Linked DNA regions of Homo sapiens: region 1 is linked to region 2. Evidence: fine-mapped expression QTL. A gene starts in region 2. The other region holds a variant in brackets. All regions are shown on one strand. Distances are between the middles of the regions.

The links. PIP is the estimated chance that this variant, and not a neighbour inherited with it, causes the effect.
Region 1: its variant is the best candidate, but not a certain one, in a credible set for the expression of LINC01589 in lung (GTEx, PIP 0.50).

Annotation. Positions count from the first base shown.
Region 1 is chr22:45,596,900-45,601,287 of GRCh38, reverse strand. It overlaps FBLN1 (fibulin 1), which reads right to left. Exons shown (of 17, transcript NM_006486.3): 17 at 153-981. The coding sequence ends at 842. Among named protein-coding and RNA genes, the nearest start is that of LINC01589, 6.6 kb to the left of the region's middle. The variant A/G (reference allele first, on the strand shown) is at 2,201.
Region 2 is chr22:45,603,580-45,607,967 of GRCh38, reverse strand. It overlaps LINC01589 (long intergenic non-protein coding RNA 1589), which reads left to right and starts at 2,321. Exons shown (of 2, transcript NR_131244.1): 1 at 2,321-2,567; 2 at 3,210-3,536.

The DNA.
Region 1 (4,388 bases), 6.7 kb after region 2:
CCAGAACCTTGAGGGGCAGGAGGAGCACTGAGACAACCTTGGGTGGGGTGAGGCAGGGGGACGGCGGGGGGAGATTTCCAGTCCCTTAGCTGGCGGAAGACTCCTGAGCTGGCAGAGAGCCCTCTTCTTGAAAGACTCTCATGCACAGGCCATCAGGAGGATCACAAAGTTGTTTATTTTCCCACCTATAAGAAAAGATGGATGATGCAGAGTGCCGAGAAATCCCAGCCATTCCCCTGGTGAACATACTGGAGGCCCACACGAGCCTAACAGGCTGTGTCTTTACCAAGGGATTTTCCTCTATTTCAACAGAACTGCAATTTCCCTTCCAAGTGCTCCCCGAGGCATTCTGTCATGCTGCTTCTGGGGATAATTTATCATCCACGTCTGTGCTATTCTACAGCAGCCATGTCCTTAGAACATAGAAAATCTGATTGGCCAAAAAAAAAAAAAAAGTGCCAAAATGTCAAATTTCATACAATCAGGGCAAGAACTGGTCTTCTTTTGGCATTTGGACTGGCTGCCCCCTAAAAAATGTCTTTCTTTCCTTGGCCCTTAGCAAGGCCCAGCCAGAGGCAGAGAAAGGGGGTGACACTTAGCCTTCGCATTAAAAAATGAGCAAGGTTTTCAACCAAACAGTTGAGCAACTGGGCTCATTTTTTAAACACCGAAAATACATCAGATGGACTTATTCATCTGGCTCAGCTTAATACATGTTGGCCTAATGCTACAAATACCTAACATTAAAAAAGTCTGAGGGTATAAACAAGTACAGACCACAGTCACTGGCAGCAATGATTTGGCCTGGAGGTGCACCTGCGGCTGTGCGGCAGACCAGCCCTCAGAACCAGTACTCAGAGACGAAGATGTGGACGTTGACAACATTTCGGTGGGAGACCACGCCCCCGACCACATAGTTCATCTCCAGCTTCAGGACGGCATGAAATGGGCCCACGATGGGCCGCACCTGGCGCACGACACCTGCGGAGAGAGCAGAAGGTGTGCTGGAAGTTAGAAGGGACTGCAGCAACGTAGAGATCTGGGAAATGGTTTCCCTTGAGGAGTTTCAGAGCTAGAAGGAGGCATAGACCTCATGGAGTCCCATCCTACGCCAGATGCTCGAGTCCCCTGAATAACATCTCCTTCCAAGTGGTCAGCTCAGGCTCTGCTCCTGCCTCCAGGGACTGGTGAAAGTGAACTCACTACTTGCTGGGACAGCCTTTCCATCATGCACTGCCCAACCTGGAGGAAAGTTGTGGGTGTGGGCTTTGAAACTGGATGGCTCTGGGATCAATGCCAGCTTCTGAGCCCAGGTTTTCTGCTCTACCACCATTTACCTGACAGGTGTTTTTTGTTTGTCTTTTGTTTTTGCGACGGAGTTTCACTCTTGTTGCCCAGGCTGGAGTGCAATGGCGTGATCTCGGCTCATTGCAACGTCCACCTCCCGGGTTCAAGCCATTCTCCTGCCTCAGCCTCCCGAGTAGCTGGGATTACAGGCATGTGCCACCATGCCTGGCTCATTTTATATTTTTAGTAGAGACGGGGTTTCTCCATGTTGATCAGGCTAGTCTCAAACTCCTGACCTCAGGTGATCCACCCGCTTTGGCCTCCCAAAGTGCTGGGATTACAGGCATGAGCGACCGTGACTGGCCTACCTGAAAGGTTTTAAGGGAGCCTAGAAGAGGGCCTGGCATGCAGTGGGTACCTGATAGACATCTTTCTCCCTCCTTCCAACCCCCTGTGCCCAGTTCTGACCCCTGAGAAGAAATGAAGCAGGCGTATCCTCTCCCCCAGAACATCTGAGGACTGCAATGGGCCCTGGATCCTCCTGCAAGCAGAGCACCCCCAGTTCTCCATGGGGCATGCCTCCGGACCCCTTGCTGTGCATGCCTCTGTGGAGGCTGACACCTGAGCTCACTGTTCAGTGTTTGTGATAACAGGGAAGCAAGAGGTGGCTGGAGTGACAGAGGATCAGAGCAGCAGTGGCGTCCCCAGGGCAGTCAAAAGGAGGATGGGTGGTGCAGGGAGACTGGTGTCAGTTCTGGGGAAACAGCTGGGGGTTGCAGGGAGCTCTGCCTGTACCAGGGTAGGGATCAGGCAAAGACCGTGGCCAGAGGACAGGGCACAGACAAAGCTCAGCCACGGCAGGGTAGAAGAGGAGCAACCCCAGGCATTCTGCAGATTCCAGGGGATCCGGGTT[A/G]GCGGGTAAGGGAGTGGGTGCCACAAGTCCTCCCCAGCCTGGGCCCGCCATCTCCATGGCCCCCGACCAGGCCCAGCTGGCACTGCCTTCCCTCTGCAGGGCACCCAAAGCCTCACAGAGACTCTCCCATACTCTGTACGCAGTGAGAGTATGGGACAGTCCTCACTGCACTGCGGAGAGGCTGAGGCCCTTTTGAGGCCTAGGTTCCCCAGCAACAAACGGTGCCATGCCCCTGTGCTCCTGCACTGCACGATTCAGATGCCCAGCATCTGCCAAGGCATCAGCTCCAGCTGTGCAGAGCGGCCTTCCCACCAGAGCAGAGCACTCAGCAGATCCCCTTCGCATGCACACATGTGCTAAACAGGTGCTGGGACAGTTCCCAGGGTTCCAGACATCATGAACAGGATGCTGGTTTCAAAGCTGGTGGGAGATCTAGGATGAAAGGTATGCACCACGCTCTGATGGAGGGTGTGCATTGTCCAGCGGGGGCGAGAATGGAGGTGGGGAGGGCTGGGGAGTCAGGACAGGTTTCTTGGAAGAGGCACCCCTCCTGCAGAGGAAGCTGCACAAGCCAAGGCTACAGGCTGCTCCCCAGTGTCTGCGGCCAAACAGGCACAGACCTATGGGTGCTGACATTTATGAATGAACCGCCAAGGTCCCTTCTCCGTTCCACATGTTCTGACAGTAGGATTTGTCTAAGGTGGTGTTGAGGGTGGGGATGTGGGGTAACTATCTAACAGGTGGCTCTCTGGTCGTACCATCGGCCAATTTCTATGGCAAATTTCCGGTACCACGTGGCAACACTGAAAGTGGACTTGTGGAGAGATGTGTACAAGCAGCTCTCCAGAGCTGGTGTGAGCAGTGTGAACGGTGTGAGCTGGCACTGAGACACCTGCTTGGATGCTCTGTGAAGAGCGAATATGGAGCCTGCAGCTTCACAACCACAAGTTGAGAAATAGCTACTGACTGTTTGCCACAAACGGCTGATTCCAGGCTGGATTCTGTGAACAGTTCCTCTGCAGGCTTAGGAAACGTGCACGGTGACAGCCTATCTCCACCTCTTGGTGCCCAGGACACAGCAAAGGCTCAGGGGAGAACTGAGGGGTCAGGAAGGCCTTCGGTACGAGTGGCTGGTTCCTGGTCAGGAACATCAAGTTCACGCTCAGAAAGAGAATCTGGGCACAACGTTCCCCCCTTTCGCTCTCTGGGCTTATGTTTCAAAAGTGAAAGGCCCAGCAGCTGGGGTGGAATTTCAGGCTGTTCCCTAAGCAAACATGGGCTTTAGCTCCGATGGAGAGATAAGCACAGGCTTCTGCAGGCTGTCAGCACCCTTGCTCTGCCTGCTACCTGGTGATGACATTGAAGCTTTGTCCTGCTTGAAAGCCCATGAACGTCTTCAGCTCCCGGCAAAAGACGTGCGCCTGTCACCACCCTGGGCTCGCCAGCAGAACCTGATGACGGGGTCACTCCTGCCTGCCCCTCCCTGGGCTGGGTCTGCCCACCAGGGTCAGTGTGGGCTTACAGGGCTGAACCTAACGTACCCCCGTGGGCCCCCTGTATGTCATATTTTTCTCTCCCCAGGCCCGAGGCCAACAATGGTGCCCCCGCTAGCCACAGTGACCTGCCAACTTTACTGGTACTAGGCGCAGAGACACTTCTTACCACCCTTCCTGGCATTCAGAGGTTTGGGGCTTGAAGGAGAAGGAGAGGCTGGGTGAGCCTGTGAATCACTGTAGGGAGGAATGGCAGGCACCTCCACAAGCAACAGTCAGATATGTCTTTGTTTCAGCTGGGTGCAGTGGCTCACGCTTGTAATCCCAGCACTTTGGGAGGCTTAGGCGGGCAGATCACAAGCCCATGAGTTCGAGACCAGCGTGGGCAACGTGGCAAAACCCTGTCTCTACAAAAAATACAAAAATTAGCCAGGCATGGTGGTGTGTGCTTATAGTCCCAGCTACTCAGGAGGCTGAGGTGGCAGAATTGTTTGAGCCCGGGAAGGTCAAGGTTGCAATGAGCCAAGATTGTGCCACTGCATTCTAGCCTGGGTGACAGAGCAAGATCCTGTCCCAAAAAAAAAGAGATCTATTTCTGTTATTATTATATTTCTGTATATTATATAGTTTCATATATGATATATAACTATTATACATATAAAACAATATATTAAAAATATATGTTATAAAGTATG
Region 2 (4,388 bases):
TTCAGTAGCTTCTGGGTCCCACCCTCCAGGCAACCTCTTCTTCCTCAGCCTGGTTCTGTGACCTTGTGCCCCCTGCCACTCCTCCATTCTTAGCTCCACATGGGGCACCCACATCTTCCCCCTCCCAGAGCCCCCTCCCCAACTTCCCACCCCTGTCTGTCCCGCTTTTTTTTTTTTTTTTTTTTTGAGACAGAGTCTCATTCTGTTGCCCAGGCTGGAGTGCAATGGCGCGATCTTGGCTCACTGCAAACTCCACCTCTCAGGTTCAAGCGATTCTCCTGCCTCAGCCTCCTGAGTAGCTGGGATCACAGGCACCCACCATCTCGCCTGGCTAATTTTTGTATTTTTTTTAGTAGAGATGGGGTTTCACCATGTTGGCCAGGTTGGTCTCCAACTCCTGACCTCAGGTGATCCGCCCGCCTCGGTTTCCCAAAGTGCTGGGATTACAGGCGTGAGCCACCACGCCCGGCCAGCTCTCTGCAGACACCATCTGGGCGTCCTACACTTCAGTTCAATTCTGACGCTGGCCACCCAGAGTTAGCACAGGCCCGAGAGGATATGGGCTCCGTCCTGCAAGACCGTCCCTACTTCAGATGTCAGTTGCAAAGATTGGGCGCTCAGGTTACCCACACTTCCGTCTGACTTGGCTACACATCAGGGGTCCCCAGAACGCCCTCCTCGGGTTTGGTAATTGGCTAAAATGGCTCACAGAACTCAGGGAAACACTTTGGTTACATGTATAGGTTTCTAAGACCTTATACAAACTGGGCCCATTAGTCTTTGCTCCCTGATACTATCTGATACCATCTGGTCTCATTCCTTCCTGAATGGAATAATTCCTTCCTCATTCATTATCACAAGGACAATAATGTCCTTGTAAAGGACATTATTGATGATACAGATGAACAGGAAGACGAAGAGGCACACAGGGCGAGCTCTGGTGGGGCCCGGGCACAGGAGCTTCTGTCCCCGTGGAGTTGGGGGGCGCCACCCTCCCAGCATGCGGATGTGTCCACCAGCCCAGAAGCTCTCTGGATCCTGTAGTTCAGGGATTTTTACGGAGGCTTCATTACTTACGCGTGATGGATTATTAGCTCAATCTCCAGCCCCTCTCCCTTTCCTGGAGGGTGGGGGTGGAGCCAAAAGCTCCAGGCTCCTCGTCGAATCTGGGTCTTTCTGGTGCTCAGCCCCCAACCCCACCCAGGAGCCACTGAGAGTCACCTCATTAAACCAAAGACAAGGGATTAGGAGCTTTGTGTCAGGAACCCGGAAAGAGACCAAATAGAAGTGAATGTTTCTTATTATGTCACACAGCCACACCACGAGGTTGGTGCAGGAGCCCTTGAAGGAAGCCCTTGGAGGATCTGAGACCAAGAGGGCCTGATCAGATCGGAGTTTTGGAAATGTAACCTGGCAGCCTAGGGGAGGACTGGACAGAGTGGGGAGGACAGAGGGGAACTGATTCACCAGAGGGAGGGCGTGAAGTGAGTGAATGAATGAGTGAACCAATGAATGAACAAGATGGGAAGGAAGGAGTGAGACCAGATGGTATCAGATAGTATCAGGGAGCAAAGACTAACGGGCCCAGTTTGTATGAGGTCTTAGAAACCAGATCAAGGAGGTGGGATCAACGGTGCTTTCCTCTAAAGAAGCACATTTCCGGCCGGGCGCGGTGGCTCACGCCTGTAGACCCAGCACTTTGGGAGGCCGAGGCGGGTGGATCACCTGAGGTCAGGAGTTCGAGACCAGCCTGGCCAACACGGTGAAAACCCATCTCTACTAAAAATACAAAAATTAGCTGGGCATGGTGGGGGGTGCCTGTAATCCACACTACACAGGAGGCTGAGGCAGAGAGAATGGTTTGAACCCCCGGGAGGCAGAGACTGCAGTGAGCTGAGATCACGCCACTGCACTCCAGCCTGGGCGACAGAGCGAGACCCTGTCTCAAAAAAAAAAAAAAAAAAAAGAAGCAGCAGCAGCAGCAAATTTCCAGGAAGAAGCAGGCTATGGAGATCAGGGCAGGCAAAGGACAGAATTAGGTTAGTGCATCAACTGGGTCCAACCAGGAAGACACATGTGTTTATCTCCTGCAGCACCAAAAACCACCCAGAAGACAGCTCAGTGGACCCTAGCAGTGGATTCTACATGTCTGCAGAAAATGAGCAGAAAACAAGCCAGAGTTACAGCTATCTGCAGAGAGACTACATCCAGGAGGTCTGAAGACTGAAAGTAATCACTGCAGTCTGACTTCTACCACTGACACCCTTCCCATACATAATTTAAATGTGTAATTATAATACCATTGCTTAGTTAACGGACACCAATTCGTGCAGGAGCTGCCACAAACAGTAATAAACCAGCTGTGTTAGAAATGGATCACTTATCAGTGCGTGCCCAAGCCTCCTAATGCCTCATGATGTTTAATAATTAAATTGTGACACCTTGAACCCGCAGCTGACACCATGAATCACAGTGGAATTCTCCAAATGGAATGCAGCCACACCTCAGCTTCTGTGCTGCGTGCTGCCACTGAGGACATTCGATACCATTGAAGCCGTCAGATAGAGGTGGGTTATTTCCCTGTGCCCTGCACCTCCCTTCTGGCAAGTCCCTGGGAAGCAGTGGCCACAGATGAGCTGCTGCTCTCTTAAAGACTGAGATCAGGCCGGGCGCGGTGGCTCATGCCTGTAATCCCAGCACTTTGGGAGGCTGAGGCAGGCAGATCACCTGAGGTTGGGAGTTCGAGACCAGCCTGGCCAACATGACGAAACCCTGTCTCTACTAAAAAATACAAAAAATATTAGCTGGGTGTGGTGGTACGCGCTTGTAATCCCAGCTACTTGGGAGGCTGAGGCACAAGAGTTTCTTGAACCCAGGAGGCAGAGGTTATATGGAGTCTCGCTCTGTCACCCAGGCTGGAGTGCAGTGGCTCAATCTCGGCTCACTGCAACCTCATTTCAGGAGATGAGACCGGCATCCTTGTGGGAGAAGATGGCCCTGAGCTGGGCATGGCAGAAGGGCTGCGGAGTGTGTGTGTGTGTGTGTGTGGTGTGTGTGTGTGTGCACACATGCGCACATGTGTGTGTGAGAGAATGTGTGTGTGTTGGAGATGATTACCGAAGCCTTCCTGGCACATAGTAGGTCTTTTTTCCCACAAAGAGTAATGTGATTATTGGTAGTAATGGTGACTGTCACCGTGCTTCTCACAGGCCGTATTTCAAAAGGTCTACGGTGGCTCCGTTTCTTCTCTGAGACTTCAAAAGTCCTTCAAGAGTGAGTTCCCGTCTCATTCTATGTCCAGGATGAAGACGGATGGCCTCTTGGCACCCATCTCTTTGGCATGAACGATGTGGGGAAACGTGAATGGAAATGGGGAACTGTTGCTGGCACCCAGAAGTCATCCGGTCCGGATGAAGCCAAGTCACAAGGAAGTGCCTCCAATTATTCTTCATAAATTCCTCTGAGGTTTCACTTCTTGTCCACACAAGACTTTAATAAAATGTGGCATCTAACTGAATAAAGACTATCCTTTCGGGTGTGTGTGTCATGACAGTACTATTTATGGAGGACCTCCTGTGTAGCAGTTCTTGCACTGTTTTACGTAATCATCCCCTTTCATCCTAACAATCACTCCTGTGAAGTATGTGTCCTTATTTTCATTTCGTTGTAGAGAAAACCAAGGCTCTGAGACATTAAGCAATGTGCCCAAGGACACACAGCTAGTAAGTGGCTGGATTTGAGCGCAAGCCTACAAGAAACTGTAAGTTTCTTATTTGTATTTATTAATTCATCATATTGTCATTTCTTCAAAATGCAACTGAATCTCATAAAATGTCAGTGGCAGAATCTAGGTGGAAGGTGCCCTGGTATTCACTGTAAAATTCCTTCAACTCGGCTGTATATTTGAAAATTTTCATGTTACAATATTAGGAAAAAAACCCTTGATTTCCAGGTGTTTTTTCACCTGGACAAACTTGAGAACTTTGGAAAAGCTGGCTTACCTCCTCGAATTCTAGTTGGCTGGCTTGGCTGGGTTGGCTGGGTGGGCCCTGGCACCCTCCACTCAATGCCCACCTGCATGTTAAAACGGGTCCTGCTAGGACCCTGGGCAGCCCAGGCACTTCTGACACATGCCACAGACTTCCTCTGTACAGTAGAATAGATGTCCCTTAGGAATAAAAAAAAAAAACAGGCAGCTTTCTGGTCGAATACCACTCTATGACACCTTCTGGGACCTTCCCTCCAAGTTTCTTCTACCAGATCAACAAGAAGGATTCAACTTGGTGTCTCTGTGTGTTTTGCTGTCTCATGCTGCTTATAAACTGCTTTGCCTTTAGCAATGTCCCTCAGTTATCTTGTTCTAAGGCTACAATTAAGAAGGAATCACT